2 separate regions of the Homo sapiens genome follow, and region 1 is linked to region 2. Evidence: fine-mapped expression QTL. A gene starts in region 2. The other region holds a variant in brackets. All regions are shown on one strand. Distances are between the middles of the regions.

The links. PIP is the estimated chance that this variant, and not a neighbour inherited with it, causes the effect.
Region 1: its variant is fine-mapped to the expression of GPR107 in whole blood (TOPMed, PIP 0.94).

Annotation. Positions count from the first base shown.
Region 1 is chr9:130,127,701-130,143,924 of GRCh38, forward strand. GPR107 (G protein-coupled receptor 107) reads left to right here. Exons shown (of 18, transcript NM_020960.5): 17 at 940-1,061; 18 at 7,325-12,464. The coding sequence ends at 7,421. GPRACR (GPR107 adjacent cis regulating lncRNA) reads right to left here. Exons shown (of 2, transcript NR_135124.1): 1 at 15,544-16,224; 2 at 12,910-15,191. Among named protein-coding and RNA genes, the nearest start is that of GPRACR, 8.4 kb to the right of the region's middle. RefSeq lists enhancers at 1,258-1,477, 14,156-14,929, 15,704-16,224. The variant C/T (reference allele first, on the strand shown) is at 8,327.
Region 2 is chr9:130,045,131-130,061,354 of GRCh38, forward strand. GPR107 (G protein-coupled receptor 107) reads left to right here and starts at 8,776. Exons shown (of 18, transcript NM_020960.5): 1 at 8,776-8,943. The coding sequence starts at 8,803. It also overlaps a transcript of FNBP1 not described here. RefSeq lists an enhancer at 3,724-4,224 and a silencer at 8,764-9,073.

The DNA.
Region 1 (16,224 bases), 83 kb after region 2:
AAATTTTTTTTTTAGTTTTTGAGACAGGGTCTCACTCTGTCACCCAGGCTGGAGTGCAGTGGCGCAATCTCAGCTCACTGCAACCTCCACCTCCCGGGTTCAAGCGATTCTCCTGCCTCAGCCTCCTGAGTAGCTGGGATTATAGGGATGCACCACCATGCCCAGTTAATTTTTGTTTTTTTAGTAGAGATGGGGCTTTGCAGTGTTGGCCAGGCTGGTCTCAAACACCTGATCTCAAGTGATCCGCCCACCTTGGCCTCCCAGTGTTCTGGGATTACAGGTGTGAGCCACCACACTTGGCCTCCTTCCATCTCTTCTGGCCTATAATTGAGATGATCTGTTTGTCCAGAAATGCTGCTGGATTCTATGAGGAATCTGAAAATAATTGCATTCTTGATTTTAGTTTTCAGTCTTAAAAGTCAAGAGAAAAGCTTCAGGTAGAGAAAGATTTGCCCTGAATCATTAGAACTTAGATGAGATGTGGTCCTTTCCTTTAGTTACAGGGCTGAGTAGTTAGAATTCAGGCTGCCCTTCTTCTTTGCCCATTTTATTATTTCGATAATAAGTATCTTTGCGACAAACTAGAACTAGCTTAACTACTAGAGGAAGCCACCAAATGACTTTTTTCTTGAATAACTCACTGGGTGCTGTAGGCACTGTGGGAGGAAGTGGGTATGTGGTGAGCTCTTAAAAGCTACCCATGAAGACTGGTGAAAGCACAGCAGAGCACAGCCTCGGAAATGTCAGCCCTGGGCAGGACACTCCTCGTTTAGGCCTCGGCAAGTCTAAGGAAAATGCCCTGTAGCAGGAAGTGGCATCTGAGTAAAGAACCATCGAGTGGTGGGTTGTGGGGAAATATGTCAGTTTGTTGAATTCCACTGCTTTCTGAAGAACAGTGTTGCTAATCTCTTTATTTTGGGGTGGTTTTTAAACTTGCAGCTCCTGGATGAAACGGCCACACTGGTCTTCTTTGTTCTAACGGGGTATAAATTCCGTCCGGCTTCAGATAACCCCTACCTACAACTTTCTCAGGAAGAAGAAGACTTGGAAATGGAGTCCGTGTAAGAAATCTTTCTTCCCTCTTCCTTAGCCCTGACCCCTTTGCCTAACACAAAGCAGCACAGTGTGAATCGGGTCGGCTGCTCTCAGCATTTCGTGGCTGCAGGGGTGGTTCCTCTATTTTTAGCAGAAGGAAGCGGACACTGGAGCCCCAGGCTGTCTGATCTGGTTTGAAGTACAGTATCTGCCAAACCTAGCTGGGTCTTGTCAGGGAAGATGGAACTTGCCGTTCCACTAAGCATCATTGGAGCCTGCTTTCAAGAACTCAGTGGCAAGAACTTAGGAATATACGTGGCCAGTTCACGAGGGAGAACAGGGGGCCGACTTTCTGTCAGGCCCGCCATCAGGCGCTTACGTCTGAAAATGGAATCTTCTGAGTCATCTCTAAGTCTGCTAATGATCCTCAGACATCCTCTATCGTCAGATAACTGCGTGGCTTTTCACAGCACAATGACTTTGACCTATATCTGAGCACTAATAGGGGCTTTTCTGAGTCACACAGTGAATGACTCTAGGGTCCTATTTTCTGGGAAAGGGCCATCATTGTCTAGAAAAATGAGTAGTGATTAAGCATATTTGCTTGTTAACTGAAATTTGATAAGCCAGGTCAATGCTGTGTTTGATGATTAGCCTAAGGCAGAGTTTTCCCTTCTTGGTTCACTGGTATCAAGTGTTCTGCCCCCAGCCCTGGCAGCCTTTGAATTCTTCCCAATTCAGAGGCTGAGACTCGGCCCATGCTAAGCTCTGCTTGGCTGTCAGCGGGTCAGGCAGCATGGGACAGCTCTCTCTGCTCAGCTCCACGGCAACAGTAAAGGAAGGCAGGTCCTGCCAGCGGGCGCCAAACAGCATCTCCCCATGCAGAGGAAGAAACACCTCCTTCTAAACAGTGGAGAGGAGTGCAGGAGGCCCATCAGCTGTGCCTTTCCCAGAAGTGGCAGGATCTGAGCAAGTGTCTGTTGGTTGAAGAGGCACACATGTCAGGCTGGCAACCAGCAGCATCAGGAAATAACCTAAGACGCGGTGTGTTTATCATTCCCCTGCTGGGAGCCTTTGGCTTGGTCCGTCCGCATAACACGGGGTTCTTTGGGTAGGCAGCTAGAAGCCGAGCGGCCGGGTCGCAGCATCGTCTCCTTTACTGCATTGTACTCCACAGTCGTAATGGGAGGTTCCCGCTTCCCACATCCTTTCCCTCAGCCGTTACATCTTGGAGCCTGGATGCATTATGAAGGTATTTTTGTTTCGTGGCAACAATTTTTTTAAAATTTTGTTTTGGTGCTTCTTTGACAACGCGGCCCACGCAGCTGCCCTCTGTGCAGCCATTACCCCACCAGGCCTGACACAGCTTCTCTCTCTGGGCCTGGGTATGAGGGCACAGTCCAAAGTAACACTGACTTTCTCTCTCTTTCCCCTTCTGTTTCTTTGACCATCTCTCTTTAGGCCTACCAGTTTTGGCAACAGAAGTTACCGGTCAATAATCAGCAAGTTAAAAAGTATCGGATGCGATTTCAATTATCAGACTTGGTAGCTGCCTCCTAGGCTGTGGGTATCCTCAATGATCTGAATTACTTCTGTCATCTTGAGGAGTGAGAGTGGAAGGAAATGTTTGGTGTGGGTTCCTGGGCCAGGAGGTTTTCTCCCTGGGGTTCCCATTCCAGAACGCTGTCCTCATTCATGGTTGCTGTTCACCTTTCACCACTCCCTGCATTATTTCATGTGGGCGAGGAACGTGTGTGGAAATGGGGATTGGGGACTAATAGACTTGTCTCTTCACCAGGTCTCCCCACACTTCCAGACCAGAAAACACTTTTTAGTTATAGAAATGGATATATCGGCTGGGTGCAGTGGCTCATGCCTATAATCCCAGCACTTTAGGAGGCCGAGGCAGGCAGATCACGAGGTCAGGAGTTCGAGACCAGCCTGGCCAACATGGTGAAACCCCATCTCTACTAAAAATACAAAAATTAGCTGGGCGTGGTGGCAGGCACCTGTAATCCCAGCTACTCGGGAGGCTGAAGCAGGAGAATCTCTTGAAATCGGAAGGCGGAGGTTGCAGTGTGCTGAGATCACGCCACTGCACTCGAGCCTGGGCGATGAGAGTGAAACTCCGTCTCAAAAAAGAAAAAAAAAAAAAAAACGCATGAATCCGTGGACCACTTAGGCCCAAGCCACATTTGATTGCAGTCTTGTGTGGCAGAAGGAACCTGTGTCCCATTTGGCACTTTTGGTTGCAAACACAGAGACTTGGGGCTTTGCAAGGAAAGGGGGTTACTGTTTAGATGTCAAGGAAAGAACGCTTATCTGCGGCGGTCGGATGTTGGCCCTTCAGCTGTTCGGTCCCTTAAGTGTTTGCACCAAAACTAGGACACCTAGTGAGGTGGCTGCGAAGCTGCTGAAGCCCCACCGCCGTATGTTCCTGCCAGGGAGGCTTTTGGGTGTTCATCTGACCCAGGTCTCTCTTCTCACTGCTGCAGAGCCTGAGCTTCCAGGACCGTTGCGGGCGCCCTGTCTGCAGGGGGCTAGCCAGGTTTCCTCACATCGTGGGGGCCCCAGGTGTCCCTTCAGCTTCCCAGAGGTTTGCTGGGGGAACAGGATGTAGCGCCTACCCCACCCTGGGCATCTGCCATCAGGTTTCTTCCTCTCCTTGAGTTCACTTCTGCCACTCCCAGTCCTGGCCACACACTGAAGCTCCCTGTCACCCGCCCTGCCTGTGACAACCTCCTGCGCTACCACACACCCTTACTCCCGTTCTCCCTCTTCGCACTCCCAGGACTCACCCAAGCCCAGGGTTGCCCCTGCTACCCCCTCACTGCCCCCGGCCCCTCCTGAATGCCAGGTCCCCCTGTCCTCCTGCTCCGCGTCACCTCAGCCTTGAAGCCACAGTCTTCCTGCATCACACCAAGCTCGCCCCTCCCCATTGTTCCCTATAGGCCTTGGTGACACGGACATCCACCCAGTCTCCTGCAGCCATGGCTGAACCACGTCCCTCTTCCTCAGCCCGTGCAGAGCGTCCTGTAGGCCTTACTTTGTGCCTCTCACCCCCAGCCCCACCCCGCCTCTTGCTCTCGTGCCTGGGCTTTGTGGTGGCTGACCTCTTCACTCCCGATCCTCTCCCCTTCCTGTCCATCCTTCTATTCCCCTGCAGACAGGGTCTCACTCTGTCACCCAGGCTGGAGTGCAGTGGCACTATCACAGCTCACTGCAGGCTTGAGCTCCCCGGGCTCAGGCAATCCTTTCACCTCAGCCTCCTTAATAGCTGGGACCACAGATGAATGCCACCATGCCCAGCTAATGTTTTTGTATTTTTTTGTAGAGATAGGGTTTTGCCATGTTGCCCAGGCTGGTCTCAAATTGCTGGGCTTAAGCAGTCCTCCCGCCTCAGCCGCCCAAAGTGCTGGGAATGCAGGCGTGAGCTGCCCTGGGAATACAGGTGTGCCCAGCCCTTCCTGTCCATTCTCCCGGGCTCTAGAATCACCTGTAGAGTGTTTTTGCAGTGCCAGTTTCCTGGCCGCACCCCTGGAGACTCTGATTCTCACCCCTTGGGCTCAGGATCTGTGCTTTTCTCACTCCCCAGGGCAGCCTGAGCAGGAGGCAGGGCTGAGAACTGCCAGAGTAGGAATCAAGGCCATCCTTGGGTGACCAGGCAGACTGGGCCCTCGACAACCCTGCCGTCCTGTGTCCACCCTGGTTCTCTCCCTGCCACTCTCCTTCCCAGACTGGCTGGATGTATTAAAATATATTTGCCGTAGGCCAGGTGCAGTGGCTCACGCCTGTAATCCCAGCACTTTGGGAGGCCGAGGCAGGTGGATCACCTGAGGTCAGGAGTTTGAGACCAGTCTCGCCAACATGGTGAAACCACATCTCTACCAAAAATACAAAAGTTAGCTGGGCATGGGGACATGTACCTATAATCCAGGTACTTGGGAGGTTGAGGCACGAGAATCACTTGAACCCAGGAGACGGAGGTTGCAGTGAGTCGAGATGGCGCCACTGCACTCCAGCCTGGGTGACAGAGCGAGACTTCATCTCAAAAAATCAAATAAAAAAAAAATATATATATATTTTTATATATTTATATATATATACACATATACAATCCACACACTGCAAGTACTTAGCACTCCCTCACTGCCCTGGGAAATGTCCTGGGTTTTTCCTTCATGCTTTTTGCCTGTTATATTTCTTCTTTTTGGAAACTCCCCTGACCTCCCACCCATCTTGTGGGCCAGATCCTCTGCATCTCATGACGGGCTTCCTGGCTTCCCCGATTCCCCGGCAGAGGGATTCTTCTCAGCCCGAGCCATCACCGAACCCGGTTCCCAGCACTCCTGTCTCTGTTGGAAGTGGCTTTGCAGGGTTGCTGTGGAAGACCATCTCTTCTCCTGGGCTGTGGGCTCCGAAGAGCAATAAGACCACTTCTTTTTCCTTGATGACCTAGCATGAGGCCTGTCTTGAAGAATAAAAGTTGTTTTCTCACTTGGCCCACCATGTGGAAAGGAGTATTTTCTTAGAGAAAGAAAGGGAGAAAATGTTTTTCCCAAGTCTGCCGTCAGGCCCATATCCGGGTCACAGTGAATGCGCTTTGCCTCTTAGAATCAACGTGCATTGAACTCTTTGTCCTTTTTTAACAAGATGCAGTAACCATAGGACAGCTGTGTGATTACTGGAGTGTTTCTGGAAGACGTGGGGTCGCATTTCTTTGTGGTCTCAGTCACTGTGGAGAGGCACGGGGGCTGCTACGTGGCTCGGGGCAGGGGCTTCTCTGGCTCATGCAAAGGCCCTACCTCCTGCATCCCCGTCTAGAGAAGGTCCCTTCAGGAGCAGCCCTGTGCACATGGATCCCTCCTGGGGCAAGTGTCTTCCTAAAGAGGCCAGGCCTGAGACACAAGCCAGCTGGCCAGAAGTGACGCTGGGCGGCTTCAGCTGAGGCATTTTCGTCTTAGGGGATGCTTTTAGAGTCACTTATAGCATCTATGGGATCTGGCCACATACCTTGTCCCAACTTTGCCATAAGTACAAATAACCTGTGAGTCTAAAGGACTCGTTTGAGAAAGGTTCCGGCTTGGGGGATTCTTTGAGCCTGGGCATGGTAGCACCATAATGGCAAGAATGAAGAGATGAAGAAGAGGGGGAAGTTTTCTTCCCTTACCCCATACAAACATTTACTTACCATGAGGTCCAGCTGCATGCACTCTAGATGGGTCACATATACGGCCACTGTGTTGCCATTTGTAGGGGAAGGGGTTAGGTAGTTGGCAGAGGGATGGGTTGGGTCCTTGGAAAGAGCCTGTTGAGTTGATTGATTGAATTTATTTTACTGATGAGGAAATTTCTTTTGGTCCACCATGGGGGAGCATAAATCCTCATTGTTTCCTCGCTTGCAGGGAAGATGCTGGGCCAAGCGGCTTTTGACACCCAGTATCTCTGCCTAGTTCTGCTACTCACAGAGCCACCCAGTTCCCTCATAGACCAGCTCACCTTCTGTGAGGCAAGAGATTATCCTCTTGAGAAGGTGGGGCCCGTGCATGTGATTCCTTCTAATGGAAAGGGCTGCCTTGCTCAGCTCCTCATGCCCTGCGAGACCAGCGATCTTCCATTTTTAATCCTTGATTTCAACGAATGGCTCCATGGGGCCTCCTCAGAGCCAGGCACCAACAGACAGAGCCCCGGGAGCTCACAGAGTGGAGGCAGAGGCCATGCGCTGAGGCACAGCCACATGGCCCAGCCCCAGCTAGCAGAAAGCAGCCAGTTCTCTGTCTATAGTGGCCAAAGAATCTTTGATCCTGGAAGGTTCCTCTAAACCTGTGGTTCTGTCCCCTGGCTCAGAAATGATCCATTGTGGCTGCTTATTAAAAATGTCTGGTTGGCTAATTAGCTTTCTTTTCTGAATGTCCATTAAGAGTCAGATTTCAGTCTCATAAGCGTAACTATCACATATCTGTGCGCCACAAAAATTCCGCAAGCTGTGACAAAAAGATTCATGATGATTGTGATAACGATAGCTGGTGTTTATTGATTAGGCACTCTGGAGAATCTCATTTTTCCTCATGACAGTTCTGGAAAGTGAGAATTACTTAAGCACAGAGAGTTCAAGTGACTTGGCCAAGGTTACACAGCTAGTAAGGAACGAACCAGGAATCACACTTAGATTTTGTCTGTTTCAAAAACCAACACCCATCATCAGTCCTAATCACCGTGCTGTGGCAGAGATGGCCTTTTACTAAGAGACTGTGAGATGTTCCTAATTGTTTTTTCTTTCCTTGTTCAGTGTGACAACATCTGGGGTGATGGAAAGTATGAAGAAAGTCAAGAAGGTGACCAACGGCTCCGTGGAGCCCCAGGGCGAGTGGGAAGGCGCCGTGTGACAGAGCCGACCCTGAGGATGGCACTGTCCAAGGAAACTGTTAACTTATTCATAGTCCTATTGGACAGCAGGAGCAGCTCCTACAGTGAACTATTGGCACCACCGACAGTGACACCAGGGCACATGGCTGGAGCACAGTGCCGCGGAAACCTGATTTTGTACTCTCTTTTATGGAAACGATCTGTGGCTGTTTAGAGGCAGCTGGATCCTCTTTCAGGCGGGAATGGGAGGGCGGGCACAGGGAGGAGGAGAGGAAGAGAAAAGGAAGAATTCATTTTTAATTTAGGTTTCTTTTTTTCTTCTTCATTTCGGAGCTCTAAGGTGTATGCAGTTGTGACCCCATGTGTGGGGAAGTGTAGCAAGGACGGCTGGTGGAGGGGGAAGGAGGGTGCGAGGTGTCTGTCTGATGCTTTAGGAAATGTCTACTGAGGACCCTGGGACTTAAGAAGAAGGGCGGGGAGAGTGCCATTGCCTGTTTGGGAGACAAAAATGAACGAAAACAGGTGACTTTGGAAAGCAAAGTCAAAACCCAGTTTAGGATGTAGCACCTGCCCCAGGATTCCTGCCCTCGGCTTTGCCCCAGACCCTTATTCCAGATGCTGAGAGTGACCAGGACAGCAGCTCCTGAGGCCCAGTGGTCTTCTTTCCAACAGGAAAAGAAGGCTGTGATGTCGCTGTCAGGATCATGCCCTGTGGCACAGCACAGGTGGTGGGAGGTGGTTTTCTGACTGAGATGTTGCCTGATGGATGGAAAGAAATGTATTTTTAAGTTCAAAAAGCATTATCCTGTGGCGTTGCCTGGACATCCACTCCCTGACAGCCCAGAGCAGCACTGTCTGGCTTCCCTTCATGCTTGTGGCTTTGTTGTGTTTGATCAGAATTTTGGGGGAAATGGAAAGTTTTCCT[C/T]AAGGAGCAGCTGGGGGCAGAATAGGTAGTATTTAAGCAAATACTTAAGTCCAAGCAAATCATCCCCATTAAAAAGCTTTTCCTGTAGGCTAGTAGGATTTCTAAATAGATGAATTCAACAGACTTGGTCCCCATAGTCCAAGAGTATGTATGTGAAGAAAGTGAGCATGATTCAACAGTTTCACTCTCAGGGATTTTAGGATGGCAAAATACTTCACAGAAACTCAATGATTAAGTTCCCTTCCACACTTCCAGAGCTTGAATGAACACAGGTAGCCACCTAAATTGAGCAGTATTGCAACTCAGAGAGAAAATCATCTGAATAGTAGGACAAGCTCAGAAGGTACATTGTGACTGAGGGCTTAAAAGGAGACCAAAACATGGCCCCATCAGGGAAGCTTCTTAATGCTTGGGGGGCCAGCTAGGTAGGGTTGCTTCCAAAAGCTGGAGCCCACCCCTGCCTAGGGGTTGTCAGAGAGCCACACCTGCAGGGGAACAGGTACCTCCGAGGGTGAGAGTCGTGGTCTCTGGGAGTTGTTTTCTCACCTCTGGCTTAGAAGGGTCAGGCAGAAACCACAGGATGTGGGGTCACACTCACTGTCCCAAGTTTGGGAACCTGAAAAAGTCTCCATTCAGAACATGGTTGTTCTCCCTGTCCCATGCTATCTTATCTTCCTAAATGACTAATGAGGAAGCGGGTGTTCTTTTTCTGCACTTTGATTCGCCATCTGGGTTCTGTAGGGTGCTCTGAAGGTGTGATCTGCCTTCTGGCTGATGTGGAGGAAGAGCAAGCGCCTTCCCAGGCCACAGCTGCTCACCTCTCGGCAGATATTTTAGGCAAGCATCCGTGTGTCTTCCCATCTTCAGGAGAAAGGTAAATGCACCCTAAGTGTTCACTTCTGGACCTTTTTCAAGTTCACTTGGGACTGTGTGACAGAAGGGAGTTGGAGGGAGGATGGGAATATTTTTAACACTTTGTTTTCCTGTGCAGAAACATAATACCAGTTTTCGCAGAAATGTGTCTCAATCTGTGACTACCAAAGCCCTCCTCAGTCCTTCCCTCAGAGGGACACATTTGCTGTTTCTCCCGCAAGCAGATGTTGTGGATGAGGCGATAGACTCCTTGGCAAGAACGAAAGGTGTGATGAAACCTCCCTGCTCGGAAGGGTCTCCGTGGAGGTGTCCTCATTTCACATGCTGGGTTTTGCAAGCGAGGAAGCCAGGCAGTGGAGGAACTAGAGAGAGGCAGGCGTGTGTGTGGACAAGCGCTGGAGCCGCAGCCCTCAGACTGGCACGGGAACGCCAGCGTTGGGTGTTCAGATTCCACGCGTATGTCTGGGCTCACTCACAGCATGGCCGAGTGTCTGCAGTGCTGGTCCTGACCCTTCCAGAGCAGCAGTGGACAGATGAGATAAGACTGTTTCAGAAACAAAGATGGCCACAGCCTTCCTAACAAGCAGGTCATCTGGCCATGTCTGTATTGTAACTGGTAAAAGGCTTCAAGTCAGATTGATGATCAAGAAAAGTCAAAACCCCAGCCCAAGATTGGGAAAGCAGGTGGTGGTTCCAAGCTTTTAAAAAATTATTGAAGCTCTCCATCCTGTTCTGTGAGTGTGTCTTCTCTTTCTCCTTCACGTCATAGCCGTGACCCACCGTTCATCTCTGCTCTTGCGTAAAGATGACCGATGGAGTCCAAAGCCAAGTGGCTTCACCAGCTGACAAGCCACCCTCCTGCAGCCTGAGTTTCACAGTCCACTGGGTTCGTTGTCATGCGGTGTTTGAATGGTTAAGCCCTTGCAGTATTTCAGATCGGGCAAAAAATATCGGATGCACATAGCAGAACCATTGGTGGTATTTATAGCTTTGCTTTGTACTCCTCACTGTTTCTGCCTACGCAAAATATCCATGTTTCCTCTGAGAAATCTGTTGTGGACTGAAAGCGCTGCTGGCTGTGAAATTTAATAAAGTGTGTATGCTTTGCTAGAAAATTATTTCTTGGACAATAGGAACAGTCATTGATCTGTAAATCCTGGCTCTTAACAGTGAGTGGCCAAGGACTTGATCAGCCCATTTCTTGGTCCCTCAGTGCTTTAAAATTTAAGTAGCACTGCATTTTGTAATGTTGAATATGACTCTAGTGACTTGTAGGAGGCACTTGTGAGGAGATGCTTGCTTCAGTGTAAAAGATGCTCATGGCCTGAGTCAGTTGAGTTTTCTTTCAAGAAACCACTTCAGAGTGAAATATCCAGGGTTTCCCCGCCCTGGACATGTCCAGCCTGCCCAGGCAGCACACAGCCCTGTAAGTCCACCTCGTGTGGGTGAGATTTCCTCCTGCGTGATGACCTCATCGCCATCTCTGCTGTCTCATTCCACAGCCTCCCTCCCTCTTCTCTCCTCCTCTGCCCTCGCCCTTCCCCCTTCCCCATCCCCTCCCCCTCCTCCTCTGCCCTCGCCCTTACCCCTCCCCCTTCCCCTTCCGCTCCTCCTCCCTCCTCCACCTCTTTCTCCTCCTCCTTCCCTCCTCCTCCCTCCTCTTCCCTTCTCTGCCATCTTTCTCCCCGTGCCTATTGATCCCACATAGGCTCATTCTGGGTACACCGGCTAAAGGCTTTGGTGCATTGCAGCGTTTTCTCCCAGCAGCTGTGTGAAAGATGCATTTTCTAAGCTAAGGAGAATTTTCTCAAGAGTGGCATACTCATGCCAAATATTATTGCTCTGGGCCATATAGGCTGGTCTTCCTCCACACTAAAATGGGTGTCTTGTTTTGGTACTTAAAACAGTCTACTCCAGGCATCCAGTCCTTACAGACCAAGGAAGAGCATAGCGATGCCTGTTGGAATTGCAGATGCATTCTGGCCTTCTCCCCCGTCCTGAAACATTTTCTTTGAGGAAGGCTCTTAGAACATTAGATAGTCTGCTGAGGTTGTTGGCCCAGCTCCATACACCCAGTAGAACAGTGGAACAACTCATGCTTCATGCTGCCAAGCTGCTGTACTTCAAAGGAAACAGATCTAGCACACTGCTGCACCCCTGCTTCCACACTCCACACTTCACCCCGCTGCTTTTCTCTGACCCGCCCCTGGCCTTGTAAGACTCACGTAAGCTAAGTCCAGGATGCCTGTGGCCTGCGGCTTGATTCTTCCCTTTAGGATTCAGCAAGTTAATGGCTTCCTCGCTATAGAAGTGAGACTTTGACTTGATGCCTCTTGGTATATCAAAAAGATATTCATCCAGAAAGTACCAAATGTTCTGAAAGACCCGCTCTTCACTCCAGTTTTCCCTAGGGTGTTTCTGGCAGGGCGTTTTTAAAAGGCATCTACCTGAGTTGACGCTAATACTTGTCACCACCTGGAACGTAGTTATCGGTCGGCAGGCTGAACATACTCCAGATTCCCCAGAGGCCACTTCTGTAGCCCAGCGATGCATCTGAGCCTCTCTGCGTGGTTTATGCTTGAAAAATAGATAATGCTTTTAGATGGTTCACTGCCAGGCCATGGGCCCCACACATCTCAGGCCCTGTGTGAGGGAGCACACTGAGATGGTGCAGGAGTGAATGGGCATGGCTTGGCCTCGCTACCTCGGGGACCTGTTGGAGTTCTGGCAGCAGGGTGTCTGCAGGTGGGACGGCGTTCTGGGCAGAGTCAGAATGGTCAGAATGAAACAGAACAGCCAACTCACCCACAGGACAGCTTATTTTGAGGCAAGGTTTTGGATTTTGGAGGAAGCAGCCAGATGAGGCGGTGAGCCTCCAGAAGGTCAGCCTTTGGAGCACGTAAGATACTGTTACAGGGTCCAGAAATCGTGTTCACATGGGGGCTTTGACTCTTCAAACAGCTTTTGCAGATCGTAAATTGCATTTGCCTAGTCGTGTGACCTCAAAAGAAGTCAGACATATTTAATCCAGAAATAGTTTCGTTTGAGGGAGGGCTTGCAGGTCTGTAAATAGCATTTGCTTTCCTGGTTAGAGATTGGGATGCAGAAGGAGTTTTCAGTATTTTTTTTAAAACACTAATGATCATTGAAGAGTATTTATGTAAACATACAACGTATAATGGGTGGGGGATCCGATCATGGTGATGTACGGGGTGAATTCTCTTGCCGTGTTGCAAATGTGTAAAATAAAGATTATCTGGCAGAACCGTGTGTGTTTGAGATGCAGGGAGTTGCCGGCTCCTGGTGCTGTCTCTCCTCCACCTCCATCTCATAATTTTTTTCTTTGTGATTTTTGTTCATTAAATTAGTTAACTGCCTCCCACCAGCTCCTACTGACAATAGTGACACCTACTAGAGAAGTTCCAGGCATCTTAGCCGATCTGTGGCAGCGCAATTAAGACCCAGATAACTGAAAACCGGTTGTAGGTTACTGCTGTCCTGCTTACGCTGGAGGCGGGCGATGTCTTGTGAACCAGTGTCGGGGCACTGCTGCCATTTGAGGGGAGATGGCAGGCCTGGCGCAGAGCCCGCACTGTGACAGGCGCAAATGCACCTTCTGCATCGGTTAGCAATAGCTCTGGGTTACCCCATGTTGGAAGCAGAGAAATCCAGGATTTTAGACTCAAAGCATTTTTAGAAGTCATTCAGTTCCAAAGCCCATATTTTACTAAGAATGTTTTAAACTGAGGCATATTTTACCTACAGTAGAATCCATCCTTTTTAAATGTACCGTTTGTTGCGTTTTGACAAATGGATGTACAGTCCTGTGGCCTCCACCACAATCAAGATGAAACGTGCCCGTCACCCCACGCAGCCCCCTTTTGCCCCTTCCCGGTCCAAACTGCCCCCTTTCTGAAACTACCACAGCCCCGGCTCTGATTCCAGCGTAGTCTCATTTGCCTCATCTAGAACTTCATGTGAATGAAACTGCGCCGGGTGCCCTCTTTCGTGTCTGGCTGCTTTCACACAGCATACTGATTTGTGATTCATCCCTCCAAAGCCCTGCCTTCAAAACGCAAAAACTGGGGCCTAAAGAAGGTTCTGCCACTGCCCACCCACATCCTTCCCCTTTTTCCCCCAGCTAGTAAGTGTCAGAGCTGAGACAAGAACCCAGGCCTGCTGACTCCAACCTTGTTGGGATAATAAGGATTAAGTCAAGGGCTTGGCCCAGTGCTGGGCACAGGAAGGCCTCAGAAAAATGGCTCTGTTGGTTACTGCCGTTGTGCTTATAAAAATGTGAGCATGGGCCAGGTGCGGTGGCTCACGCCTGTAATCCCAACACTTTGGGAGGCCGAGGCAGGCGGATCACCTGAGGTCAAGAGTTCAAGACCAGCCTGAGCAATATGGCAAAACCCTGTCTGTACTAAAAGCTACAAAAATTAGCCGGATGTGGTGGTGCGTTCCTGTAGTCCCAGCTCCTCGGGAGGCTGAGGCAGGAGAATTGCTTGAACCCCAGAGGTGGAGGTTGGCAGTGAACCAAGATCCTACCACTGCACTTCAGCCTGGGTGACAGAGTGAGACTCTGTCTTAAAAAAAAAAAAAAAAAAGTGAGCATGAACCTCAGTTCACCAGATCATAGGATTTCAGAATGAGAAGGAGAGAGAATCCCTGTCCGTGGCCAAGGTTTCCCAGTTAGTGGCCATGCCCCACCCGCAGCTCTTTCTGGAGACCTTGCCTGTGCCGCAAAGCATGAGTAGGAGGCATGGGGTGTCCTGAGAGTAGGGAGTCCAGGATTCAGAACCCAGGATGAGAGATGCCAAGGCAACTCGAGAAGGGGACAGCTGAGAAAAGACTCAGGAAGGACCTTGCTGATATCTAATCCAGTGGTCCTCAAACAGCAAGCACCCGAATCCCCGACAGAGTTCCTGGGGGGCCTGAGAGTCGGCATTGCTAACACACTCCCAGCTGGTGCCAACATGGCAGATCTGGACCACACTGAGAACAGATCCAACCCAGTTCTCTTCCCGAGTCTTGGGTCAGTCTTCAGCTGGCAACACGGACAAGGGCCCACCTTGCACACAGCTCTTACGGGACAGAAGTCGGCGGCTCTGTCCTGCCAGGAGGCATTGCAGTCGGGACCAGGTGAGAGACCGCAGGCAGGTGCTGGCAGGGGCCTGGCTGTCCTGCTGCTCCCCTGAACCATCCCACATGGGGTCCCCTTGCAGTTCAGGTCTCTCTGGCTCCTTCTTCCCCCACCGCTAGCGTGGAGCTTTGCCAGTTAGAAATTCAGGGGCTGACAGGATGAGCTTGAGAAGCCTTGGCGCCCGTGGGTTTGGCATTAGAAAAGCCCACGCCCACAAGTCTGACCCCGGCTTCAGTAGCTGAGCCTCGCACCCTCCTTTGATCAGTGTCGGCAGAGGAAGAGCCGCCTGGCGCAAAGCAAGGGCTCAGCAAATGAGAGCCCTTCAGTGCCTATGGCGGGCTGGACTTCATCCAGTAAGACCACCCCTGAGGGTGATAGGTCGTTTCAAGGTCATTTCAGAACAGCCCCTCTGCCTCCTCTGTTTGCTGAGCCTCCCATCACTAGGGTCCTGACCGCAGACACCAGCCAGCCAGGAGCTCCAGTGTGAGGCTGAGGAGACCAACCTGCCCTGCTGGCCCCGAAGACGCAGGTCATACGAAGCTGGTGTATTGACTTACTCTGAATATAAGCACCCATAAGCACTTACTCTCTGCAGCACTGGAACAGGCCTGGGCATTGCAGTTGCTTAGTAAATATCAACTGGACTTGAACCTACACCAGCGTCCTGGGAGGAACAGTTCTGTCCCAGGAGGTCTGGAAGCCAGCTTGGCGATCGGCAGGCATTGTCAGGGGAGCCAGATGCCTCCCAGGTTGGCCGCCCTCCTCAGCTGCAGCATCTCATTTCTTCCCTTTGTGCAGGAGTCTTGTCATGTGATTGGTCATCTCCAGCTGGTCCACTCTGATTGGCAGCTGGAAAAACATAACGGTCAACAACTCTAGTCTGGTAGGCAAACTCTTGAAGTCAGAGAAATAATTGGGTCCTGATCTTCAAGAGGCCGGGGGATTTCTGCTTGTTCTGATAAAACAGGCAGTGCAGGCTAAATCCAGAGCAGATATTGGCCCCAGTATGTGTTTCTGAGAAGAGCCTACTGCTCCCAGGCCCCAGGACCCTGGGTAGATCCTCCCTGCCCCCACCCAGGCTCCTTAATTTTCGAAGCTGCCTTTGGGTGGCCTGCCCTTCACCAGGAATCTGTCAGGTCGGCAGATTGGTAGCCGTAGACTCCCTCAGGCTAAGTAACAAGGAGGCTGGGTAAGTGCTTACCCTAAGGAAAGAAAGCGCAGACTTCCTGGAGGCTGGCATTGGCTTTGCCCTCCCGTAAGCCACCTGCATGGTGGGGCGTTTCTGAGAATCCGTCCTGAGCCCCTCGGCACTGGCCCGCCCACTCCCACGAAGAGAAGCACGCTCAGCAGTTGGGAACTGGATGTTGGGGGGTCGGTGTGACCCACTTGGGAGCTGCACCTTAAACTGCTCCTTCCCAGTTTGCCAAAGGAATGCTGACCTTTGCAAAAATGAGGGAGCTGCTCATTAACACACATCTGCAGGAATCGAGCTTGCGCCCTGCATCAGCCATTCTAGCGTATGTCCTTAGACATAACTGCGTCTCTGTCACTCAGAGCCCTGGTTCCAGTCGGCCTCCGTCGCCTAAGGTTCAACATCGTTCAGCACACGCTGGTATGGGCAGGGCTGCAGATGAAATGATGAGTAAGCCTGGCTGTGCCACACGGGAGAGAACAGTACTGAGGAGGGGAGCAAGCCACGGGGCAAAGCCATGGGGCACAGCTGAGCGGCAGCACCACGTCTCCTCCGTTCCCACTCACTTCTTCCCTCCACCTTTGCAGCCATCTCGCTGTCCCTCGGTCCCCTTACTCTGCATCTTTCCCCTTTCCATGTCACCTGGCTCCTTCCATGAAGCAATCAAGCTTGTTCAAGTTTTCCCATGAA
Region 2 (16,224 bases):
CATTCTTGTGTCTGTATAAATATTTTGCTCTCAGTTACCAGGTCTGAATTCTCTTTCCTCCAGAGACTGCTAGATATATAACAATGAGAACGGCCAGCTACCTATCTCCTAAGGCAGATTAATAGCCAGAGTGAGTTGGAGGGGGAAATTCAAACAATGCTGCACAGTTTAGTCTGCTAAAATTTGGAAACGGTACATGCAATGCAGGTTTATCTAACAAGACATTGCCTCAGTAATCACCTTCCTGCCAGGGCTTGACTTTTTAGTCAAATACAATGATCTAATCTTGACCAAGTTATTGGAGACTTCTCAAAAACAGTGACCACTTGTGAAAATACTCTAATCAAGAAGTAAAACAACCTGCTGCTTTAAAGAGGAGAAAGAGGAAGAGGAAGGGACAGCAGAAGAAAAAAAGAGACCACATGAAGATGAAACTTTTTAAGACGAGTAAGCAGGAGATTGTTAGTTATAGGAAGGAACCCATTAAAAGCTGCCGCAGAACTCTATGGATGTGAGTTAATTATACAACACTGCAAATATCTTTAACTTCATTAAGCTTTGGCAGTAACTGGAAAATGCTTGAAAGTGTCAGAATCTTCAAAAAATAAAGGAGAGAGACACCAATGATCATGAAGCCATGAGATAAAATGAAATAAGCCAGCAGAAAAAAGGCTAAAATATAGCACAGCATTTTTTAGGAAGAACTAAATCCATTTCAGTTTCCCTTCAGAGCAGGAGGAAGTGATTCTAAGACAAGGAAGTATCCCCATTAACAAACTACTGTGACCTGACCTACTTAGGAATCAGTTTTCACCAGGGGTACTCTAAACTCTATGTAAACGCTGATATTATCTAGGGGGTTAATCTGGGTTGCAGATACTGGTTTCACCTCTCAGTAAAATCTAGGGAACACTGATTTACAAAATTATGATCTTGGTGTGATATTACAAAATATATATTTTGTCGTCAACCTTGTTTCCTGAAGTATAGCTCCTAAAATCCTTAAAAACCCCAAAATGATGTCTTTTTATATACTAATGAGATGACTGATGGCTGACAGTCCCTAAGTATTAGTACCTCAAGATGGGACTGGTCACCATAAAGACCAAGACAAGATTAGAGGTGTGGGACTTTTATCTGCACCCACACTGTCACTCCAACCTCCGGGGACTGGGGAGAGGCGCTGAAAGTTAAGTTGTTCAGTAATGGTCAATAGCTTAATCAATCATGACTACATAAAATAAAGCCTCTATTAAAACTCCAAAAAACAAAGTTCTGAGAACTTCCAGATAGCTAAACACATAAAAGTCCCTAGAGAGTTGGCCGGACGTGGTGGCTCACGCCTGTAATCCCAGCACTTTGGGAGGCAGAGGCAGGCAGATCATCCGAGGTCAGGAGTTTGAGACCAGCCTAGCCAACATAGTGAAAGCCCTGTCTCTACTAAAAATACAAAAAAAAAAAAAAAAAAAAAAAACACCAAAAAAAAAATTAGCCCAGTGTGGTCATGGGTGCCTGTAATCCCAGCTGCTTGGGAGACTGAGGCAAGAGAATCGCTTGAACCCAGGAGGCGGAGGGTGCGGTGAGCTAAGATCGCGCCACTACACTCCAGCCACTGTACTCCGGCAACAGAGTGAGACTTTATCTCAAAAAAAAAAAAAAAAAAAAAGTTCCTAGAGGGTGGCATGCCCAGAGAGGGCACAGAAGTTCCACTCTCCTTCCCCCGTACTCCATATATCTCTTCATCTATATCCTTTATAATAAACATGTTTCCCTAGGTTCTGTGAGGCACTGTAACAAATTAAACCCAAAAAGGAGGACTTGAGATTTCTGATTTATAAACAGTTCGTCAAAAAAGACAGATCACATAACCTAAAACTTAAGATTGACACCTACTTGGGGTGGGGGGCAGTCTTGAGGACCAAGCCCTCAATTTGTGATATCTGACACTATCTCCAGGTATATGGTGGCTGAGGCAGGTGAAGTGCGAGGCTGCAGTGGGCCGTGATTGCACCATTAGACTATGGCCAGGGTGACAGCAAGACCCAGTCTCTAAAAAAAAATAAAAATTAAAAGAACACTAAATTAAAGGACACTCAGCTGATGTCCACTACAAAATTAATTACTTGGTTGGTGGTGGGAAGAAATCCCAACACGTTTGGTCACAAAAGTCCCCTATGTGAATTATTAAGTAAAAAACAAAACAGCTGGGCGCAGTGGTTCACACCTGTAATCCCAGCACTTTGGGAGGCCGAGGAGGATGGATCATGAGGTCAGGAGTTCAAGACCAGCCTGGCCGACATAGTGAAACTCTGTCTCTACTAAAAATACAAAAATTAGCTGGGCATGGTGGCGCACGCCTGTAGTCCCAGCTACTCGGGAGGCTATGGCAGGAGAATCGCGTGAACCTGGGAGGTGGAGGTTGTGGTGATCCAAGATCGCACCACTGCACTCTAGCCTGGGCAACAGAGCGAGACTCCATCTCGAAAACAAAAAGAAAAACAAAAAACCCTGTAAGTTTATGTTTTTTTTTTTCCTACTCTCAGTGGGGGACTCAAACATGTTCCACTGAATAATCTGATCACATGGACAGTATTAGCAACGAAATAAGGTATCCGGTCAAACAGAACAGAGACCCTGTATAGATGGCTGTGTGGTTAGAGGCAAACAATTGTATTAGGGCTTTTTGGCAATTCTAACCCTGCTTGCAACTAATAAACATCTAATTCGGGATCTTAGGTGGACAGATATTTATATAGCTGTAGATAGATATGAGATTTTAAAGCAGATAGGGTTTTGAAATTGTTAAATTGGGATCCCAGTGTTCCACTACTTATTAGTTGTGTGGCCTTCTGCAAGTTACTTACATTATCTGAGCTTCAGTTTACTCATTGAGAAGACAGGGATCTTGGCCAGACGCAGTGGCTCACGCCTGTAATCCCAACACTTTAGGAGGCCGAGGCAGGCGGATCGCTTGAGCCCATGAGTTCAAGACCAGCCTGGGCAACATGGCAAAAACCCATGTCTACTAAAAATACAAAAAAATTAGGTGTGGTGGTGTGCCTGTAATCCCAGCTACTCAGAAGGCTGAGGCAGGAGAATCGCTTGAACCCAGGAGGCAGAGGTTGTAGTGAGCCGCGATCGCGCCACTTCACTCCAGCCTGGCGACAGAGCAAGACTCCATCTCAAAAAAAAAAAAAAAAAAAAAAAAAAAAGACAGGGATCTCATAGGTTGTCATTAGTCTGAAATGAAGGAACTGGGGTTGAGTACAGTCTTTGGTGTTAGCCAGATTTGTATAGTTCTGTCCAGACAGCTATAGAGAGCTTTGGCTGAATTACTTTCCTTCTCTAAGCCTCAGTTTCCTTTTTTTTTTTTTTGAGACGGAGTCTCGCTCTGTCGCAGTGCAGTGGCGCGATCTCAGCTCACTGCAAGCTCCGTCTCCAGGGTTCACATCATTCTCCTGCCTCAGCCTCCCAAGTAGCTGGGACTACAGGCGCCCGCCATCACGCCCGGCTAATTTTTTGTACATTTAGTAGAGACGGGGTTTCACCATGTTAGCCAGGATGGTCTCGATCTCCTGACCTCGTGATCCACCCGCCTCGTCCTCCCAAAGTGCTGGGATTACAGGCGTGAGCCACCGCGCCCGGCCCAGTTTCCTCTTTTTTTTTTGAGATAAGAGTCTGGCTCTGTCGCCCAGGCTGGAGTGCAGTGGCGCCATCTCCGCTCACTGCAAGCTCCGCCTCCTGGGTTCAAGCCATTCTCCTGCCTCAGCCTCCCGAGTAGCTGGGACTACAGGCGCCCGCCACCATGCCTGGCTAGTATTTTGTATTTTTAGTAGAGACGGGGTTTCACCGTGTTAGCCAGGATGGTCTCATCTCCTGACCTCGTGATCCGCCCGCCTCGGCCTCCCAAAGTGCTGGGATTACAGGCATGAGCCACCACTCCCGGCCAGTTTCCTCTTCTTTAAAATGTAAATATGGCCATGCACAGTGGCTCATGCCTGTAATCCCAACACTTTGGGAGGCCAAGCCAGGCAGATCGCTTGAGACCAGGCATTCAAGACCAGTTTGAGCAACATGGAAAAACCTGGTGTCCACAAAAAATAAAAAAATTTGCCAAGCACAGTGGTGCACAACTGTAATCCCAGCTACCCGGGAGGCTGAGGTGGGACGATTGCTTGAGCCTGGTAAATTGAGGCTGCAGTGAGCCTTGATCATGCCACTGCACTCCTGAGAGCGAGACCCTGTCTCAAAAATCAAAAAATAAAATAGAAATAATGCTACTTCAAAGGTTATTGTAAAGGTTGAAAGAAAGGTGGCTTATGCCTATAATCCCAGCACTTTGGGAGGTGAAGGTTGGAGGACTGTTTGAGCCCAGGAGATTTAGACCAGCCTGGGCAACATGGCGAAACCGTCTCCACAAAAAAATACAAAAATTAGCCCGGCACGGTTGTGCTTAGCTACTTGGGGGCTTGAGGCAGTAGGATCGCTTGAGCCTGGGAGTTGGAAGCTGCAGTGAGCCGTGATTGCACCACCGCACTCCAGCCCGGGAAACAAAGTAAGACTCTGTCTCAAAAAAAAATAAAAATAAAAATAAAAATTAAAAGAAAGAATACGTATAAAATGTTTAGCACATAATATACACACAAGTATCAGTTCCCTTTCCTTTCCTCCTGTTTTCTGGAGGATTTTTACTTATTGTAGAAAATAAAGCAATCCTTTCAGCATTTTCTTTTTTTGTGTGTGTTTTGTGTTTTGTTTTTGTTTTTAGAGAGGTCTTGCTCTGTTGCCCAGACTGGAGTGCAGTGGCATGATCATAGCTCACTGCAGCCTTGAATTCCTGGATTCAAACCATCTTCCCCAGTAGCTGGGAATACAGGCCTTTAAACATTTCTGATGCAGCAGGACCGCCTGCCTGAACTTACAGTTGATTGGTTGTCTACTGGTGAAGAACTACTTCTAATGAAATTCTCAGGATTTTTTCTTCTTCAAAATTACTTGTTTTTAGCTTAAAATTTCCAACTTCTTTTGCATTCGAACTACTTACTAGGGACTCAAGAAAGCAATCAACTGGAAAAAGTGGAGTAGGATAAAACCAGGAACTCCATGGTGAGTGAAATGCTAAAACTGCAATGAATTTTTACAACGAATAATCCAATTCCCCTGTAAAGATGTACATAAAATCAAGAAAGACTGCCTGTCCTGTGGCTGAGCAAGTTATACACTAGGGTCGTCAGGTTGAGGAGTAATTTTGAAGTTTCTCTCCAATCCACAGGACTCAAAGTGTGTCAGAGCCTGGCTTTTCCATGATCACTTTCTACAAAAAGATGCACTTGGAGGCATTCCCGACACCCCAAGAAATGCATGAAAACTTTAGCTGCAATCCTGGAAGAAATGGTGTTTCAAGCCAAAGAATGAAAAGTAGCATTTGACTTCTGAATGTATTGCTAGGCCCCAATTTGACCACTAGTTTCCTATACTGTCTTAACAGAGGCTTTTGGTTTGCAATATCAATCAACTCTTTTTTTTTTTTTATTTGACAGGGTCTTGCTCTGTCACCCAAGCTGGATAAAAGTGTCATGGCTTACTCCAGTGTTGACTCCTGGGCTCAAGCAATCCTACCACCTCTCTGCCTCCTGAGTAGCTGGGACTACAGGTGCGTGTCACCATGCCCGCTAATTTTTGTGTTTTTTTTTTGTTTTTTTGTTTTTGTTTTTGAGACAGAGTCTTGCTCTGTCGCACAGGCTGGAGTGAATTGGTGCAATCATGCTCGCTAATTTTTTTTTTTTTTGAGACAGAATCTCGCTCTGTCACACAGGCTGGAGTGCAATGGTACAATCTGGGCTCACTGTAACCTCCGCTTCCCAAGTTCAAGCGATTCTCCTGTCTCAGCCTCCTGAGTAGCTGGGATTACAGGCATGCGCCACCATGCCTGGCTAATTTTTGTATTTTTAGTAGAGATGGGGTTTTGCCATGTTAGCTAGGCTGGTCTCAGACTCCTGGCCTCAGGTGATCCACTGACCTCAGCCTCCCAAAGTGCTGAGATTACAGGCCTGAGCCACCGCCCCTGGCCTAATTTTTGTATTTTTTGTAGAGAAGGTGTTTCACCATGTTGCCCAGGCTGGTGGCAAACTCCTGGGCTCAAGTTATCCACCAGCCTTGGCCTCCCAAAGTGCTGGGATTACAGGCATGAGACACCAGCCAGGCCTATCAAGTCTTTTGATAAGAAAAACAAATGGCAATTATACTTTCTTAAACTGGAGACTATTAACACATTAATTACTTAAAAGAGTTCTGAAAATGTCCAAACCGATATCAAATAATTATTTAATAATAATAGCACTAGATTCAACACTACACATTCTAGTAGCAACCTTAAGCTGATCCTGAAAAGTTAGAGAAAATAGTCCAGGCAGGGTGGCTTACGCCTGTAATCCAGCAATTTGGTAAGCCGAGGTGAGCAGATCACTTGAGGCCAGGAGTTCAAGACCAGCCTGGCCAACATGGTGAAACCCCATCTCTAGCAAAAATACAAAAATTAGCTGAGCATACTGGCGCACACCTGTGGTCCCAGCTAGGGAGGCTGAGGCATGAGAATCCCTTGAACCTGGGAGGTGGAGACTACAGTGAACAGATGTCACACCACTGCACTCAGTCCTGGGCAACAGTGTCTCTGTCTCAAAAAAAAAAGGAGAGAAAATAGAAAAATAAAATGTACTTGACTAAGAGAGTAAGGCTAAAAGCCAAGCTTAGGAGATCAGTCTTTCCAGCCCCTGCAGGCTTTTTCAGTCAATACCTTAAAGTGTAATGTCCCTTTGAAAATGTTGCCAGGAGAAGCAGGCATAACTTGTTCTGTTACTCAGCCTGTTTGTTTCCAGTTACAGCATCATGATTATGCAAATAATCTTTTCTTGAAACTATGAAATCACATGGCTAAATGTAATTGTCAAGGCAGCAGTTTTCTAGAATTTAAGAAGTAACTGTAGAGAAAATGCTCAACAATGTCTTTGTAGTCAGTTTTCCCTCATTCTTATTCCTCTCAATTCCAAAATAATGACTGGCACAATACAGCTTTCAAATATGTGAAAGAAGAAGATATCCTCTTAAACCCCTGGACAGACAGCACTGGTATGACCCTATGTAGGTCACATGATAATACCCAAGTATAGAGAAGCAAGGAATGCTATGAACCCAGTTTTAAGCCCTTATAAAACTGTTGTCCAGAAACTAAGACAAAAGTCTCCTATTTAAAACTATTTTAATGTTTCATCACTATTGTATTATAAAATGGGATTAAGATTCTTACCTGATTTTTTTTTTATTGAGACAGAGTCTCACTCTGTCACCCAGGCTGGAGTGCAGTGGCATGATCTTGGCTTACTGAAACCTCTGCCTCCCAGGTTCAAGTGCTTCTCCTGCCTCAGCCTCCCCAGTAGCTGGGACTACAGGCGCGCGGCCGTGATGCCCCGCTAATTTTTGTATTTTTAGTAGAGACGAGGTTTTGCCATGTTGCCCAGGCTGGTCCCGAACAACTGACTTTCAAGTGATCCGCCCGCCTCGGCGTTCCAAAGTGCTGGGATTCAGGCGCGAATCACCACCCTGCCAGGCCTCATTTCGTTTTTAGTACAGTATTATATTCAAATTTAAAACCAGAGATTTTCAAAGATGCCACTTAACTTTAAAAGATAAAAAGTACTCCAAAGCAGGTTGGGCGCAGTGACTCACGCCTGTAATCCCAGCACTTTGGGAGGCCGAGGCGGGAGGATAACTTGAGGTCAGGAGTTCGAGACCAGCCTGGCCAACATGGGAGAAACCCCGTGTCTACTAAAAATACAAAAATTAGCCGGGCGTGGTGGCGCAGGCCTGTAATTCTAGTTACTCCAGAGGCTGAGGCAGGAGAATCGCTTGAACCCAGAAGGCGGAGGTTGCAGTGAGCTGAGATCGTGCCATTGCACTCCAGCCTGGGTGACAAGAGCTAGACTCCGTCTCAAAAAAAAGAAGTTCCTATAATTTCTGAAAGAAGCAAAGAAAGTTTCCATACAGAATTAAGAGAAAAATGTTAAGACCCAGACTTGGGGTTGGATGAAATAGCATGAGGCAACAGAACACAGGAGTTAAGAGCTTCCGTGTGATTCCCAGCTCAACCTGGAGCAAATGACTTATTTCTCAGAGCCTCAGTTTGCTTACCTGTAAAGTAGGAATAATGATAATACGTACCTCCTAGCTCATCAAATTGTTCCAAAAATTAAATACAACAAAAGGCCTAACAAATTGCCTCATAAGGGCTCAATCAATCGTATTATTGCAACCATTTCGCTTGTATTTGAGTGTGAAGCGCCTAGAAAACCACAGGACCCCTACGGCGAGCCGGGAATTTTTAGATATTTTCCTCCGAGTCAACGCTCAGTGAAATCAGTTCAATCAGTGGCCCGACACCGTGCGGCTGACACAGCTTATCCCCCGACCCTGAGATCAGGGGTCCCCGGAGCCCAAGGTCGCTTCCAAAGCTCAGCGAGGCGGAGGTGCGGCCCGGGCTGGTCTGGTTCGGCCACCGTTGTTATGGCAACCGCCAATAGGTTGGCTTCATCTCTAACTGAAAGTCTGCACAGGAGCGGCCGATCGAAGGGCCCCGAGGTGGGCAGCACAGGCTCCTCGACGACTTCCTAGGTCGCAATCTCCAGGAAAACGACCACAGGGTCAGCGGAGCTAGCCGCCGAGCCCCGCTCCCCGGGCCCTTCCGGCGGCTGCGCCCTTTCACCCCGGACGTGGGCGGGAGAGGAAGCGGCTGGTGATGCTGGAACAAACATGGCCGCTCTGGCGCCCGTCGGCTCCCCCGCCTCCCGCGGTCCTAGGCTGGCCGCGGGCCTCCGGCTGCTCCCAATGCTGGGTTTGCTGCAGTTGCTGGCCGAGCCTGGCCTGGGCCGCGTCCATCACCTGGCACTCAAGGTAAAGCTTGGCAAGGCCGGGCCGGGGGGCGGAGGCCGAGGCCACTCCCCGGGTTTTAGGGCAACTTTGGCCCATTGGGGACCTCTGAGCCACTGGACCACCTCTTTGCCCCTGGCTGCGGCCTTTCACTGACAGGTGGCGGGGTCTGTGGGGAAGGCGGGTCTGGGCGGCGCTGGGGTCTTCGGGCTGACCGGCACGGGGCGGGAAGACTCGAGCTGAGGGAGGGGAAGGGGCTGAACTGTGGCGTTGCCCCCACGGACTCGGGAGGCTGCTCTTAAATCCCTGCTGGCTTCCCTGAATTCCTCACTCAGGGCAGCCCGATCGCCTTTCTTCTTTCTCCCCTCCAGCTTTTATGCTGGCTTTCCTTGTCCGCGGTCTCCGCTCTTCTGTGCCCTTGTACTGTACCGGCGGTTTGAAGGTACTTGGAACCTTAGCCTCAGTTTCCCATTTCGGTTTAGGGCGCTCTCTGGAGCGAGACTCTAGAGAAGGAATTTCAAATCTTGCTTAAAACACGTGACTGAGAATGTAAAGCCAGCATTAAGGTGTGTCTCTAATCAAAGGGCCTGCTTTTTCTTCCTCTATCCAGCCATTGTCTAGGGAAGAGAGATTTTTGATAAACCTAGAATGATACTCTGGATCTTGCTTTGTAACTAGCAGAGAAAAGACCTCTAAGGCTGAAACGCACCCTAAGGTGGTTCAGCAGTTTACTATATCTGGGAAATTGTCCAGGTGCTGTGGCTCATGCCTGTAATCCCAACACTGGGAGGCCTATGCAGGAGGATTGTTTGAGCCCAGGAGTTCGAGACCAGCCTAGTCAACGTGCTAAGGACCCCCTCCCCAAACCTGTCTCTACAAAAAATTAAAAATTAACCAGGTGTGGTGGCAAACGCCTGCAGCTTCTGGGGAGGCTGAGGCTGGAGGATCACTTGAGCCTAGGAGGTTGAGACTGCAGTGAGCCGTGATTACTCATTGCATTCCAGCCTGAGGAACAGAGCAAGACCCTTTCTCAAAACATATAAACAAAATTAGAGACATAGAAAAGTAAATTGTTATGACCCAAACTCTTGTACATTATTTTCATACCATACAGTCTTCTAAGAAGTGGAACTGTAGGCGGGGCGCGGTGGCTCACGCCTGTAATCCTAGCACTTTGGGAGGCCGAGGCAGGCAGATCACGAGGTGAGGAGATCGAGACCATCCTGGCTAGCACGGTGAAACCCTATCTCTACTAAAAATAAAAAAAAAATTAGCCAGGCGTGGTGGCAGGCGCCTGCAGTCCCAGCTACTCGGGAGGCTAAGGCAGGAGAATGGCGTGAACCTGGGAGGCGCTTGTAGTCCCAGCTACTCGGGAGACTGAGGCAGGAGAATGGCGTGAACCCGGGAGGCGGAGCTTGCAGTGAGCCAAGATCCCGCCACTGCACTCCAGCCTGGGCAACAGCGCGAGACTCCGTCTCAAAAAAAAAAAAAAAAAGAAGTGGAACTGTAGAAAGTTTGTCTTGTAAAAACACATTGTTTTAGCAAACTATGAAGCATTGTATTTTGTTAATGTAGAATTTAAAGAATACAGAATGAAATTAAAAGCCTGGCTTGACTGGGCACGGTGGCTCACACCTATAATCCTAGCACTTTGGGAGGCCGAGGTGGGCGGATCACCTGAGGTCAGGAGTTCGAGACCAGCCTGGCCAACATGGCAAAACCCCTCTCTACTAAAAATACAAATATTAGACGGGCATGGTGGCACATGCCTGTAGTCCCAGCTACTTGGGAGGCTGAGACAGGATAATTGCTTGAACCCGGGAGGCTGAGATTGCAGTGAGCAGAGATCATTGTGCCACTGCACTCCAGTCGGGGCGAAAGAACTATACTCTGTCTCAAATAAATAAATAAATAAATAAATAAATGCAAGCCTGACTGGATCCATACAACCTTACTTTTTGGTAACAACTTTTGTTGTTTGTAGGTAAAAATTATCCTGATTAAAATGGTTCAATCACAGGGGTGGGGGTGGGGCAAGTGAATTTTGACTCTTTGAGAATCTGTTGAGAGCTATAGAACCTCTCTCCAGAAAAGTGCATGTAGAAATGTAGACAAAACTTGGCCGGGCACGGTGGCTCACGCCTGTAATCCCAGCACTTTCAGAGGCTGAGGTGGGTGGATCACTTGAGGTCAGGAGTTTGAGACCAGCCTGGCCAACATTGTGAAATCACATCTCTACTAAAAATACAAAAATTAGCCAGGCGTGGTGGCAGGTACCTGTAATCCCAGCTACTCGGGGCTGAGGCAGGAGAATCGCTTGGACCCAGGAGTAGGAAGTTGCAGTGAGCCAAGATTGAGCCCCTGTACTCCAGCCTGGGCGACAGAGCAAGACTCCGTCTCAAAATAAATAAATAAATAAAATAAAATAAACATCCGAAGTCAGGGGTGTCCAATCTTTTGGCTTCCCAGGGCCACATTGGAAGATGAAAAGTTGTTTTGGGTCACACCTAAAATAGACTAACAGTAACCATAGCTGATAAGCTTTAAAAAATTGCAAAAAAATCTCATAATGTTTTAAGAAAGTTCACAAATTTGGCTGGGCGCAGTGGCTCACGCCTGTAATCCCAGCACTTTGGGAGGCCGAGATGGGCGGATCACAGGGTCAGGAGATTGAGACCATCCTGGCTAACAAGGTGAAACCCCGTCTCTACTAAAAATACAAAAAATTAGCCAGGCGTGGTGGCAGGTGCCGGTGGTCTCAGCTACTCGGGAGGCTGAGGCAGGAGAATGGCATGAACCCGGGAGTCGGAGCTTGCAGTGAGCCAAGATCACGCCATTGCATTCCAGCCTGGGTGACAGAGCGAGACTCCTTCTCAAAAAAAAAAAAAAAAAAAAAAAAAAAGAAAGTTCACAAATTTGTGTTGGGCCGCATTCAAAGCCATCCTGGGCCGCATGCATCCTGGACAAGCTTGTTCTGAGTTCTTGCCCAAGGAAATGGAAATCATTTGAAGAGAGCCTGTCAGAGCAGCAACTTTAGATTGTCTGTTTTGCTTGAGACTGAGTGAAATAGGGTACTTGATCAGATTAGAGACCCATAATGGCAAGGATAACATGAAGAGGTCACTGAGTACCAGGAGTATGCGTTGATCTCTTAAAACCTGGCTGCGCCTGGTAGCTCACACCTGTAATCTCAGCACTTAGGGAAGCTCGTTTGAGGTCAAGAGTTGGAGGCTGCGGTGAGCTATGATGGCGACACTACACTCTAGCCTGGGCGACAGAGCAAGACCCCATCTCAACAACAGCAACAAAAATTAGCCAGATGTGGTGGTGCATACCTATAGTCCCAGCTACCAGGGAGGCTGAGGTGGCAGGATCCCTTGAGCCTAGGAGTCAGAAGCTGTAGTGAGCTATAATGGCTCCAGCCTGGGGGACAGAGTGAGACCCTATTTCTTAAAAAAAAAAAAAAAAAAGACAAAGCAAAACAACCTTTTTATTGTGGAGAATTTCCAATATACTAAAGCAGATAGAATAGCATAATGAACTCCCATGTGCCTGTCACCCTCAATAACCATCAACACATGGCTGATTCTGCCTCATCCCACATACATCAATTTCTGGTTCTTATTTTTTATTATTTTTAAAATTAGAAATGAGTCCTCTTATATTTTTATTGTCTTACTCCATGCTACATTTTCCACCATTCTTCTGGCTTTCCCAGTCTTCTCACAGTCCATCTCTTTTGACTTTTCCCTATATTCCTTGCCTTTTTATTTATTTATTATTATTATTTTTTTTTTTTGAGACAGAGTTTTGCTCTGGCACCCAGGCTGGAAAGCAATGGCGCGATCTCAGCTTACAGCAACCTCCGCCTCCCGGTTCAAGCGATCTCCTGCCTCAACCTCCCAAGTAGCTGGGATTATAGGCATGCGCCACCACGCCTGGCTAATTTTTGTATTTTTAGTAGAGATGGGGTTTTGCCATATTGATCAGGCTAGTCTTGAACTCCTAACCTCAGGTGATCCACCTGCCTCGGCCTCCCAAAGTGCTGGGATTACAGGCGTGAGCCACCGCTCCTGGCTATTTATTATTTTTGTTTATTTTTTTAAAGACCTGTCAGCAGGAAATACTCCTTGCCTTTTAAGAACAACTTTATTGAGGTATAATTTACATACCATAAGATCACCCATTTTAACTGTATAATGCAATGATTGTTAGTAAGTTTACCGAGTTGTACAGCTATGACCACAATCTAGCCACAGAACGTTTCTGTCACCCCATAAGATCCCTTGTGTTGGTTTAGAATCAATTCCCATTCCCACCACTAGTCCCAGGCAGCCACTAATCTACTTTCTGTCTCTATAAACCTACCCTTTCTGGATGTTTAATGTAAGTGGAATCACAGGATGAGTAGGCTTTTTTTCTTTTTTTTTTTTTAGACGGAGTCTCGGACTGTTGCCTAGGCTGGAGCGCAATGGCGTTATCTCGGCTCACTGCAACCTCTACCTCCCAGGTTCAGGCGATTCTCCTGCCTCAGCCTCCCGAGTAGCTGAGATTACAGGCACCTGCCACCACGCTCAGCTAATTTTTGTATTTTTAGTAGAGACAGGGTTTTGCCATGGCGGCAAGGCTTGTCTCGAACTCCTGGCCTCAAGCAGTCCGCCCGCCTCGGCCTCCCAAAGTTCTGGGATCACAGGTGTGAGCCACTGCGCCCGGCCGATAGGTAGGCTTTTGTGCCCATCTTTCTTTCTTTCTTTTTTGAGCTTCGTTCATTTTGTGCCATGTGTCAGTAATTCATTCCTTTTTACTGTTGAATGGTCTTCCAGCGTGTGGATATATCTTCTTTTGCTTAGCAGTTCACCAGTCGATGGATGTTTGGGTTGTTTCCACTGTTTGGCCATTATGAATGATGGTGCCATAAACGTTCACATTGCAAGGCTTTGTGGGGCCATATGTTTTCATTTCTCTTGGATGATATCCAGGAGTGGAGTAGAATTGCTGGGTCATATGATAGATTTATGTTTAACTTTTTAAGAAACTGCCAAACTATTTTCCAAAGTGGCTCTACCATTTTACATCCCACTAGCAATTTATGAGAGTTCTCTTTCTTCACAATGTTATCAGCATTTGTCATTGTCTTCCTATATTATTTTAAAGCATATTGGCTGGGTGTGGTAGCTCATGCCTGTAATGGCCTTTGGGAGGCCAAGGCAGGTGGATCACCTGAGGTCAGGAGTTCGAGACCAGCCTAGCCAACATGGTAAAACCCTGTCTCTACTAAAAATACAAAAATTAGCCGAGTGCGGTGGCGGGCGCCTGCAATCCAAGCTACTGGGGAGGCTGAGGCAGGAGAATCACTGTAACGCAGGAGGTGGAGGTTGCTATGAGCTGAGATTGTGCCACTGCACTCAAGCCTGTGCGATAGAGTGAGACTCCCATCTCAAAAAAAAATAAATAAATAAAGCAAATCAAAGGCATTGCATCATTTCATTCTTAAATATTTTGATATTACCTGTAAAAAATAAGAGCTCTTTTAAGAACATGGCTACAATGCTATTATAACAAAAAAATCCTTAGTATCATATGTCAGATCAGATTCAAATTTTCATTGGTCATAAATGGATTGAAAAAGTTTTGAAAAATCAGGATCTAAGTCACATCCTCATACTGTGATCAGTTAATACGTCTTTTTTTTTTTTTTTTTTTTTTTGAGATGGAGTTTGTTCTTGTTGCCCAAGCTGGAATGCCATGGTATAATCTCGGCTCACTGCAACCTCTGCCTCCCGGGTTCAAGTGATTCTCCTGCCTCGACCTCCTGAGTAGTTGGGATTACAGGCACCTGCCACCACACCTGGCCAATTTTTTGTATTTTTAGTAGAGACGGAGTTTCACCATATTGGTCAGTCTGGTCTCGAACTCCTGACCTCAGGTGATTTACCCGCCTTGGCCTCCCAAAGTGATAGGATTACAGGCATGAGCCACCAGGCCCAGCGTGATCAGTAAATAAGTTTTATTTCGGGGGGAGGTTGGGGGGCGCACGGAGTCTCATCCTGTCCCCCAGGCTGGAGTGCAGTGGCGCGATCTCGGCTCATTGCAACCTCCGCCTCCCAGGTTCAAGCAATTCTCCTGCCTCAGCCTCCTGAGTAGCTGGGATTACAGGCACCCACCACTACGCCCAGCTAATTTTTGTATTTTTATTAGAGATGGGGTTTTGCCCTGTTGACCGGGCTGGTCTCAAACTCCTGACCTCAGATGTTCTGCCCACTTTGGCCTCCCGAAGTGCTGGGATTACAGGTGTGAGGCACCGCGCCCAGCCTATCCATTTCTTATTAATGGAATAAAAATGATAATCCGAGTTTTTTTTTTTTTTTTTTTTTTTTGAGATAAGGTCTCATTGTGTTGCCCTGGCTGGAGTACAGTGGCTATTCACCAGTGCAAACATAGTGCACGATAGCCTCCAACTCCTGGGCTCAAGCCATCTTCCCGTTTCAGCCTCCAAAGTAGCTAAGACTACAGATGCTTGCCACTGTGCTCGGCTAATCTGAGTTTTACATCAAAAATTGTCTAAATATGATTTTTATATTGTGTTAAAAACACAATATTTTGATGACTGATCATTCTGGCTTTCAAGTAGATGCTGCAAATGAGCAAGTGGACAGGAAGTGCTTTGCTAAAGCCTCAGAAATTTGGGCATTTCTTGGGTTTGATACTTCTATGATAATTATCCACAAATTATAACTCAAATACTCTAGACTTTGTGTCAGCAGCTTAGCAAGGCATGTAGTTTAGAGCAGAACTTGGGAATAGCCAGTCCTCACTGCTGTCGAGTGCAGTGTAACTTCTGGGCTAGTCATATTAGAAGCCTTCCTCGCTGATGGGATCTAGACTAGAAGATGTTGGATGAAAAGATAAGTTAAAGCAGAACATCACACAAAAGGAGTATGCACCTGAAACTTTATTTTGACTTAAAATCTGCCAATATACATTCATTGACTTAAATGAGTGACATTAAGCTTACTGGATGACTTCGCAACACATGCCTTCTGTCTCTTACTCATTCAACAAATACTCTTCAGGTGTCTTTTATATACCGGGTGGGCACTTCTAGACACAGGCTGAGGCAGTGAGCGGGACTAAGCCCCGACCTTTGTGGAGTATTCATTCTAGTGGTAATGGACAGCTAGCTTCTAAACACCTGAATGCACAAGTAATTTAAAAATGGGATAAATTGATGAGAAAATAAAACAGTATTGGAACCAAGAGTAATGGAATTGGAAATTACTGTGGAGAGAGACTCTGAAGAGTTAA